Linked DNA regions of Homo sapiens: region 1 is linked to region 2. Evidence: fine-mapped expression QTL. Tissue or cell type: blood mononuclear cells. Region 2 holds a variant in brackets; the other region holds the start of a gene. All regions are shown on one strand. Distances are from middle to middle.

Region 1 (5,108 bases), 55 kb before region 2:
GTCTTTATATGACAATATTGCTTGCAGTTTTATGAAGTTTGTATTACTTTGGTAACAATAAAAACATCAAAGATATGACTTTAAAGAAAGTTAAAACGTAGCTCACAATATTACTATCTGACAAATAATAAGCATATGGAAATATTTTTCTTTCTGCCCCACACCCCCCTTTCCTAATATAGGTGGCTTTGTTATAAACAAGACAGCATGATTCTACCATTTAGAACTCTTCTGGAAATAGAGACCCAAGGTGAAAAGTAAACATACAGTTACATTAAGGAGTGAGTAGGGAGAATACAGGTTTGAAAGCCAGAGGGTCTCAAGCTTTATGTGGGCCAGTCTAGAAAATGGGGGAGAAGAGGCTGGGCACAGTGTCTCATGCCTGTAATCCCAGCACTTTGGGAGGCCGAGGTGGGCAGATCACCTGAGGTCAGGAGTTCAAGACCAGCCTGGCCAACATGGTGAAACCCCATCTCTACTAAACAATACAAAAATTAGCCAGGCATGGTGGCGCGCACCTGTACTCCCAGCTACTCTGGAGGCTGAGGCAGGAGAATCACTTGAACCCAGGAGGCAGACGTTGCAATGAGCTGAGATCGTGCCATTGCACTCCAGCCTGGGCGACAGAGTAAGACCCTGACTCAAAAAAAAAAAAAAAAAAAAAAGTGAAAGAAAAAAAAGAAAAAGAAAATGGGGGAGAGGATGAATAAGGGTGGGAACTGGGGAGTGGAGGTTCCCAGGACAAGGGCAGCCAAAGGAGAAAGGAGGGAAGAGGTCCCTCTCACCTGATGGTCTTGTCCTTGTAGGCCCTGGTAAGGACAGACACCCAGCCAGGCGCTAGGGGGCATCAGGACAGGCTGGAAGTAAGACAGGAGCCAGGAGGAAATTGTTTACACTCTGAATGGGGGCTTGAAGAGGGGCACAAAACTGAGGGAAAAGGGGAGGGCCACATTGTGAACTTTCTAAGCTCCAGGCGCTTTTGCCTTTGTGAAGTACTTCCTGTCACAAAAATAAGTAAACAATAAATAGAAATCACATTTTACATCTGCATTGGTGTAAGATTAACATATTAATATGCCACCTAAAACTTCTTTTCTTCAGATTTTAGAATAAATTAAACATTTGTGAGTGCTCCTAAAAGTTTTATGGGCCCTTGGCATCGTACCTACTGTGCGTAATGGATAAGTCATCTGGGAAAGGGAGTGGGTACCGTTTGAAATAGAACCTTAAAAAGGTAAGTGGGCTAGGGTAATTTTTGAACAAGAGAGGCAGCCACAATTAACTTGGCTTTTCTGGGCCTCAGTTGATTGAGGCCTCAATTGAATGATTTCCCCAGGCCAGTAGAAATGAGCCCTGTAATCCCAGCACTTTGGGAGGCCAAGGAGGGCGGATAACTTGAGGTCAGGCATTCAAGACCAGCCTGGCCAACACGGTGAAAACCTGTCTCTACTAAAAATACAAAAATTAGCTGGGCTTGGTGGCACACACCTGTAGCCCCATCTACTCGGGAGGCTGAGGCAGGAGAATCGCTTGAACCCGGGAGGCGGAAGTTGCAGGGAGCTGAAATCGCACCACTGCACTCCACCCTGGGTGACAGAATGAGTCTGTCGGTCTCACAAGAACAAAACAAACAAAAAACAAAAACCACCACCAAAAACAAAACAAAACAAAAACAAAAACTCCCTCCGCAGGCAGGAGATGTAAACACGCCAGCTCCCCAGCCCCACCTGTGATACCTACTGGCCCACATCCCTATTAGGACTCCCTGGTTCTCCCCAGTTCCTGCAATAAAATACAGAGCAAAATAGTGTGAAATTGATTAAACTCTACTGTTATCACTTCTGCCATATGTGACTGGCTCAAAACTCAATGGATCTGACTCAGCAAAAGACAAAGTCAAAATTTAAAGTTACTGCCTCGGCATTTTGCAAATGTCCTAGAAAAAAATTCAACGTCCTAGAAAAAGGTGAAAGCTAGCAAGATACTCTCAACGCTGTAGGAGTTGAGAAAGGGAGATATGTAACCTAAAATCAATGCATAGGGCTGGGCTTCATTTGCACCCACAAATTCCCAGCATACGCCTGCTATTTTTATTTTTATCCTCATTAGGTTTTAAGCTTCCCTGCTGCTTTCAGAGTCTTAAGCCCAAGTCTAATTTTTTAACGGATGAAGAATGCTGTTTAAAGGTGCTCAAATACCTTGGTTGGATAGTATGCTCAATCCTTATACCTTGGTTGATTCAATTTTGACAAATGCTTCCATTTACTAGTTGGTGACCCAACTTTAATCTTACTAGTGGCTTGACTAGGGTAGCTAGTATGACTTTGAACGCTATATTGAATTTAATGTGGCAACTGTAATGAGCATTTTACGTTATCTCACAACAAAATGGGGTAGATATGGTTCTATTTTATAAGTGACTGGACTAAGGTTAACCTGTCGGTCACACAGCTTGTCGGCAACAGACTTGAGTTTGGATCCTAGTCTGTTTATTTCCAAAGCGCTGTTATTTATCGGGAGCAACCCTAGGAGAATGCCTAGACACACACCCAAAAAAGCAGCCAGGCAGCAGAACGCGGGGTCACACTTCGACCCCTCAGAGAACGATCGCTCCCAATCAATACTACGTGCTCAGGAGCTACAACTGAAGAAGCGTGATCACGGCCTTGGCATTTAGGGCAGGCACCAGCGCATCTATGGACCGCGCACAAATTCCGGGGATGCCGAATTTGGGGGATGCTAAGGGGAGAGAGTGGGTCTCTAGCAGCGATTGGGGGCTCAGGAGCAGTTAGTGACAAATGAGCACCCGAAAAGTGAAAAGGTGACAGCAGTCCGCAGGTGCATCTACTGGCGAGCCTTCTCCATCCCCGAACCCAACCCTCCCCCGGGAGAAGGTCGCGCCAGGAGAGAAGCCGCGCGGCGCTTAGGGCAAGGTGCAGAGGGCGGCGCGGCGGTGCAGCGAGAAAGACGCGGAGAGAGGGCGCTGCTCTGTGGCTCTGCAACCTTCCGCCAGCTCCCACGCTTTCCCCGCGCGTCCCCGGCGCCTCCTCGCTCCTCTTGCTTCCCCGCGACCCCTGCGTTCCCGTGCGCGCGCGCCCGCTTGCCTGTTTCCTGTCGCCGTCGTTGCCCGGGCCATGGCGACCTGCATTTGGCTGCGGAGCTGTGGGGCCCGGCGCCTCGGGTCGACGTTTCCAGGCTGCCGCCTCCGCCCCCGCGCCGGCGGCCTGGTCCCTGCCTCCGGGCCTGCGCCCGGCCCGGCCCAGCTCCGCTGCTACGCTGGGCGCCTGGCGGGCCTCTCTGCGGCGCTGCTGCGCACCGACAGCTTCGTGGGCGGCCGCTGGCTCCCGGCCGCCGCCACCTTCCCCGTGCAAGACCCGGCCAGCGGCGCCGCTCTGGGCATGGTAGCCGACTGCGGGGTGCGAGAGGCCCGCGCCGCCGTGCGCGCTGCCTACGAGGCTTTCTGCCGCTGGAGGGAGGTCTCCGCCAAGGTGAGAGAGCCCGGATGCAGGGGGCCAGAGCTGGCCGGGGACACGGCGGGGAGCAGAGGGGGCTTTACCCCAAAGTGACACCAGCCGCGTCGCCTCCCTCCTGTGCTCAGTTCCCCAGGGTATACAAAGTGGAAAGTCAGAGCAACAAGGGAGACGACCGACAAATAAGTTTGGAGCTTCCACTTTGAGCCGGGCACTAGGGACACGACCCCTGCCCTCAAGCCTCATCAAGTTATGCACTGCCCAGTAGGGGAGGCAGAACGTGAGCGCCTAATACAAGCGAGCTGCTTGTTATGGTCAACAAGCCTAACCGTGGAGGGGCGGGGAGAAAGGGGAGGGGTGTCAGGGAAGTGAGAGCACGTGTGGCCCTTCAGAGTAGCTGAAATATCTCCGCAGCTGCAGGGAGCCCACGCAGGAGGCTGCTTCAGCGGCCCTTGAGAAGGCTGGTAGTGAGGGCCCCTGGCCAGAATCATGGGATCGGAAACGGAGAGAACTGTAGAAAGATTTGGGTTTTGTGCAGGGGAAGAGAGAAATCCAGGAGCGTTCTCCAGGTTTTCACCCTAAATGGATAAATGCTGCTATTGGCCATTGCATAGAGAACACTGGAGAATTGGGAGTAAGGGGTGGAGGGCCATTAAATGGGAAGAATAGAGTAAGAAGAAAACTAAGAAAGTAGTTTCTTCCTTCTAATATTATATTATTAAACCTGGAGTCAACGCAGTGAAATTTTTTACCGTGTCCTTCAAAGCTCTCCCTCTGAAGGAATGCATCCAGCGATCCCTACGAGTACAAGAGAGTCTTAGCACTCATTCATCCATCAGCTGTTTACTGAGCACCTGCTGTATGCCCTGCACTGTTGGAGGTGCTTGGGATACCTCAGTTAAACGAAAGAAGGATTCTGCCCTTATGGAGCTCACATGGGGTGGAAGGGGAGCAGAAGAGAGATCAGAACTCTAAACAACAAACATAATATCTAAGCAAATAAGTATGTGAGAGATGCTGAGTGCAATATGGAAAAAAGGTAGAAGCAGGAGAGGATCCGGGCCAGAGGGAAGGGGCAAGATGCAGCATCAACAGTGTGACCAGGCATATTCCTCTGCTAGGGCTGCCATAGCAAAGTACCACAGACTGGGTGGCCTGAACAACAGACATTTCTCATTTTACCGCTCTGGAGGGTAGAAATCCCAGATCGAGGTGTTGTCAGAGTTGGTTTCTTCTAAGGCCTCTCATTGGCTTGCAGAGAGCTCAGCTTTTGTCTTTGTATCTCATCAGACCTCAATTTTAGACTCATGGAGTCTGAGATGTCTGTTCACGCCCAAGTGAGGATGTAAAGTAAGCAGTTGGTTATATGAATGAATCTTCCCTGTGTGTCTCCACATGGTCTTTCCTCTGTGTGTATATGTGTCCTAATCTCTTCTTCTTTTAAAAACAGGAGTCAGATTGGATTGGGGCCCACCAGAATGACCTCATCATAACTTAATTCCCTTTTTAAAGACCCTATTTCCAAATGCACTCACATTCTGAGATACTGGGGGGTTAGGACTTCGACATGTCAATTTTGCCAGGAGCACCATTCAGCCCGTAACATCAGGGTAGGTCTCATTGAGGACATGAGATACA
Region 2 (5,206 bases):
TAATGAATTAATCACTTCTATTGCATTTAATGTAAACTGGGGATCCGTTTACATTAGAGAACTATACTGCTAAACAACACCGAGAGGAGTCAGTGTAGTTTTTCTTAGAGAAAGAAAAGATAATGTTACAATGCTACCTTCAACCTGCACGGCATTAAGCTCCTCCTCCCCTTTCTATTGCCTCAGTCCTTAGAATACGATTCTTCCTTAGCTCTTGAATGGCCAACAGCTGCTTTCTTGAGAGAGATGAAAACTGCCATTGACATAGCACAGAATTAAAAACCAGGAGGGCTTGGCACTGTGCGAGTGTTGCCGTCAGCACAGAAAGCTTGCTACATGCAAGACTCCGTACCTCCACAGATGGCCCGTGCCTCTTAGACAAGCTATTTTAACATACACAGCCATCTGACTGCAGGTCCTACAAGAGAAACCGTGTTTAGAATGCTGTTCCTTAGAGGCAATCACAGCAGCTAAGACAGAAATCATCCCTTTTTAAAACCTTGTTTCATTCACCTTCTCTAAGGTTCTACAGATAGAAATCGTTGTTCATCTTTAATATGAGATTGTGCCAGCTACAAAAACTCAAAACTCTTTTAAGTATATACCTTAGAGTTTTACCCAGCCTTTATTTCTATTAACAAGCATCTCAGTTAAAAGAGCAAAGTTTTTGTTTTGTGCCTTCAAAAACCGGTCTTTTAGTACGTGGGGATACACATCTAACCCACTGGGGAAGAAGGTCAATGAACTATTCTAAAAGAGTGGGTTTTGTGCTGTAACTCCCACTGACTGGTCTTGGATTCAAGGGGTCCTTCCACTTTACAATGAACTGCGCCATTATCTGTCCTTTGAGCAATAACTGAAGGAAGCTCCATTTCTGATGGAACCATTCATGGAAACCTTTGGATTCCCTCTCTCCATCTTTTCTCGGCTGAAGATTGTGTCCTGGTCACTGTCAAACTCAGACTCGGATACCATCAGGCTGGAGTTGTGCTCTGTGCTTCGGTGCTTGATACCTAGAGAGAAGCACAGAAGCATCTGAGGAGGAACGCCGTGATTCACTTCCAGCTGTCAGTCGTTGTGGTTGCAGGTCCTGTGATGGGCACGGAGTGGTGCTCTCCGCCCCTTGAAAGCAATCACTCAAAACAGCAGGCGGTTTGGGTTTCCTAGCAAGTAACTGCAGGGGCTTTGATGCCTCACCCGAGCTTCTGTCCCAGCTTTGACACTCGCCAGATGCTTGAGCCTGGGCAAGATACCGAACCTCTCTGAGCTTTCAGTCTCCTCCTCTATTCAACTGGAAGATAACAAAGCATCTACCCCATGAGTTTATGCTGAGGATTAAGTGAAATAGTGCATGTAAAGCTCTCTTGGCCCAGCCTTTAGTACATTGTAAGCATCCAACAAACGAAAGCTTCTGTGATTTTACCATTTGGTTAAAATATTTTTGGTAGAATATTTGATTTCAGGGGGTCAACCTAAGATACAGAACAGGTATAAGATTCAATTCCTACTCTCAAAGGATTTATGGTGTCTAGCTAGGGGTTTAAGACATAGACTTGGCTGGGCATGGTGGCTCACGCCTATAATCCCAGCCCTTTGGGAGGCTGAGGTGGGAGGATCACTTGAGGCCAGGAGTTCGAGGGTACAGTGAACTATGATCGTGTTGCTATGCTCTAGCCCAGGTGACAGAGCAAGACCCTGTCTCGGGAAAAAAAACAAAAACAAGACATAAAAGGCATAGACTCATGAGAAGATGGCTCATAACAGGTTAGATGTTTTTTAAATTGTATATGAATTAGGAGATAAGCACATATACTTATGGCAGGGGTTGCTTCAGTAATGTTTCCCATAGGGTGATGTTGCAGAACTTTCTCCTTAGTTCAGCTAAAACCAGGCTCTTGTCACACTACCAGGAAAGATTAGGCTCACGGAAACATAGAGGGGTGAGAAAAATGGAATTTATTGGTCAAAAAGGAAACAAAAACTCTCAGCAAATAGAGAGGGGGTCTTGCCAACAACCTCCTGCCTCACAGATTGAATCCCAGGTTACCACACAGAAACTGAAGAGGCCAGGCTCCTCCCCACTGCAAATGACACGAACTTCCTGTGGCTCCATCCTCTTTCCCCAGTGCGCAGGTGGACATTACTTAGGGAGAATCAGCTGGGAAAGGGCAGGGCCTTCACTGGGGACCAGCAGTCCAGTTTTTCAGCCTTCAGGCTGTTTTAGGCTTGGAGGTGGGGTTTCGCCAGGGACTCTTGGCTGTCTCCTGTCTCTATCAGTGAGATTTGAAGAAGAGATTTTAGACAAGAGGACGGGGAAGGTCATGGAGTATGCAGAAGCATCCGGGAATATTTAGAAAAAAACTGGTTTGTTTGGAGCAAATGATTCATGTAGGAAATAATGAAGGAGAGAGGCCGGAGAAAGGCAGGGACCTCACAGAAAAGCACATGAATACAAAGTAAACCATGAAGTTTGGATTTTATCCTAAAAGCAGAGAAATGACACTATTAAAATGTTGTTCTGAGACATTAATAAAACCACAGTGTGCAGGATGGAAGACGGACAGTAGACATAGAGGTTGCTGTGGTCTGAATGTT[T/G]GCACCCCCACAAATTCATGTGTTGAAATCTAATGCCTAAATGGTGGTACTAAGAGGTGGGGCATTTGGGTGGTGATCGAATGGGATTAGTGCTCACATAAAAGAGGCACCAGAGGCCAGGTGTGGTGGCCCACACCTGTAATCTCAGCACTTTGGGAGGCCGAGGCGGGTGGATCACTTGACGTCAGGAGTTCGAGACCAGCCTGGCTGACATGGAGAAACCCTGTCTCTACTAAAAATACAAAAAAGATTAGCTGGGCATGGTGGACAGGTGCCTGTAATCCCAACTACTTGGGAGGCTAAGGCATGAGAATTGCTTGAACCTGGGAGGCAGAGGTTGCAGTGAGCTGAGATTGCACCACTGCATTCCAGTCTGGGGGATAGAGCAAGACTCTGTCTCCAAAAAAAAAAAAAAAAAAAGAGGCACCAGAGGCTGCCTTGCCCTTTGCACCATGTGAGGATGCAGTGAGGAGGCACCAACTATGAGGAAGCGGCCCTGCCCAGATGTTGAATTTGCCTTCCCAGCCTCCAGAACTGTGGGTAATAAATATCTGTTGTTCATAAGCCTCCTCTTCTGTGGCATTTTGTTAGAGCAGCCCAAACAGACCAAGGCAGAGGCAGTGCAACATAGAGGAAGAGCCCAGCCTCCACCCCACCTTCAGCACTCACCAGCTATGTTACTTGGGCAAGTTGCTAAACTTTCCTTTGCCTCAGTTTCCTCATGTGTAAAATGGGGATAATCATTGCACATACCTCGTACCGCTATGGGCAGGATTAGAATTCAATGGGTAAAGTACTTGAGATGTACCTAGTACATATTCAACATTAAATACCTGTTTATTATTACTATTAGTTCACGGGTGAAACTGTAAGGACCTGAACTGGGGTGGTGATGGTAATGACGAGGAAAGAGGGCAAGAGTCTAGCAAGTGCGGGTGTCTGGAGTGGGGGGCGGTGTGTGTGGAGCACCAGCGACTGAGGTTTCAAACTGGGGCAGTGAGAATGGGGGTTCTATGAATAGAAACAGGAATGTCAGAAGGATGAGTGTATTTTAAGACAAAGATGGGTGAGATAATGCAACCTAAAGCACGTTGAGCTCTTAGGTAAACGTCACTATAATACTTCTGATATTATGCAATGCAAATGGTGAGCACTCAATGTATGCCACTATTTGTTCTTCCTGTGAGGCTCTTCCTGCCAAAGCCCTATTAGCTACACTCTCTGTACACGATCAGTCATTCTGACCTGAGTGTTCCTACCCGGCATCGTCCATGCACTGATAGAACTCCTTGCACTCCAGTATAATTACCCTCCCTCAGGCTGTGAGCTCCTGTAAAGGCAGGCTCTGTGCTTCCTCCTCTCCCAGTCTCCAGGGCCTAACCCGGTGCCTGTGCACAAGGTAGGCATTCAACACTCACTGTGAACAATGTTTTGCACCTCACAACTCTGAAAAAGATTATATCTTCCATAAAAATTATCTTAGTCATAAGCCCAGAATTATGGAAAATCTATAGAATCGGTGTTTAGCAGCCTCAGAGGGCCAGAGAAGTTTCATTAAGTATGCAACAGTTAATAAACGAGAATGAAAAAGTTAACCGAGGTGGGCAACAGGTGCTCCTAAGCATAGGGATCAATACACTTTGTGAAGAAAGTCAATTTTCTGTAAAGCCTTTGTGTCCATCTTTATCAATGGCTAATTAGATAACGCAGCTGCTGAAAAATGTTAGGCTTTAAAGTCCAAATGTCCTCTTGCTGCATTTCTGTCCTAGCAGACCTAAAGGGAACAGCGTTCAGAGCTGAGCTGTGGGAGTGTCTTCAACTGCCCCCACCCTCCACCCGCGAGTAGAAAAAAAAGCAGGTGCTGGGGACATCTCTGTTTAAAAAGCAGTCTTTGCCCTGTGGTCATTGGTAGGTGCCCAGCTGATAACATTTCATATCCCTCATCCATTAATGCCTCAAAGTATTACACCAAAATTTCATTAAATTTATAATGAACCCACTGCCTTCTGCCCCCACCCCCGCATTAGCATATCCTCAGGATTGATGAAGGTTATTTTTCTTTTTCTTTCTTGAGACAGAGTCTCAGTCTGTAGCCCAAGCTGTAGTGCAGAGGTGTGATCTCAGCTCACTGCAACCTCCACCTCCCAGTCTCAAGCTATTCTTCTGCCTCAGCCTCCCGAATAGCTGGGACTACAGGCGCACACCACCACGCCCGGCTAATTTTTTTTTTTTTTGTATTTTTTAGTAGAGATGGTGTCACCATGTTGCCCAGGGTGGTCTCGAACTACTGAGCTCAGGCGCCTTGGCCTAAGTGCTAGGATTACAGGCATGAGCCACTGGGCCCGGCCTGAAGGTTGTTTTTCATCACAGAATCCCAGCCTCACTCTTCCTTCCCAATTAAAGTGCTGACTCCAGCAAATCGTTCTCCCTCTATCCAAGTTAGCCCTCAGGCCTACCTAGGTTAAATCATATAAAGGTGCCAGGCAGTCATTCTGCAGACTGTCTTACCATATTTGGGCCTCAGTTCCATTCTTTCCTGTTCATCCATGTTATCCAGGATGGTGTACTTTGTTTTTTTCCTGATTTTAGTCCTTTTTTGTCTGAAAGGAAC

What was found. PIP is the estimated chance that this variant, and not a neighbour inherited with it, causes the effect.
Region 1: ALDH5A1 starts here. The variant in region 2 is fine-mapped to the expression of ALDH5A1 in blood mononuclear cells (TOPMed, PIP above 0.99).

What each region holds. Positions count from the first base shown.
Region 1 is chr6:24,491,863-24,496,970 of GRCh38, forward strand. It overlaps ALDH5A1 (aldehyde dehydrogenase 5 family member A1), which reads left to right and starts at 3,107. Exons shown (of 10, transcript NM_001080.3): 1 at 3,107-3,488. The coding sequence starts at 3,135. It also overlaps a transcript of GPLD1 not described here. RefSeq lists a silencer at 3,113-3,502.
Region 2 is chr6:24,546,331-24,551,536 of GRCh38, forward strand. KIAA0319 reads right to left here. Exons shown (of 21, transcript NM_014809.4): 20 at 5,104-5,195; 21 at 1-1,013. The coding sequence ends at 835. Among named protein-coding and RNA genes, the nearest start is that of ALDH5A1, 54 kb to the left of the region's middle. RefSeq lists an enhancer at 901-1,423. The variant T/G (reference allele first, on the strand shown) is at 2,596.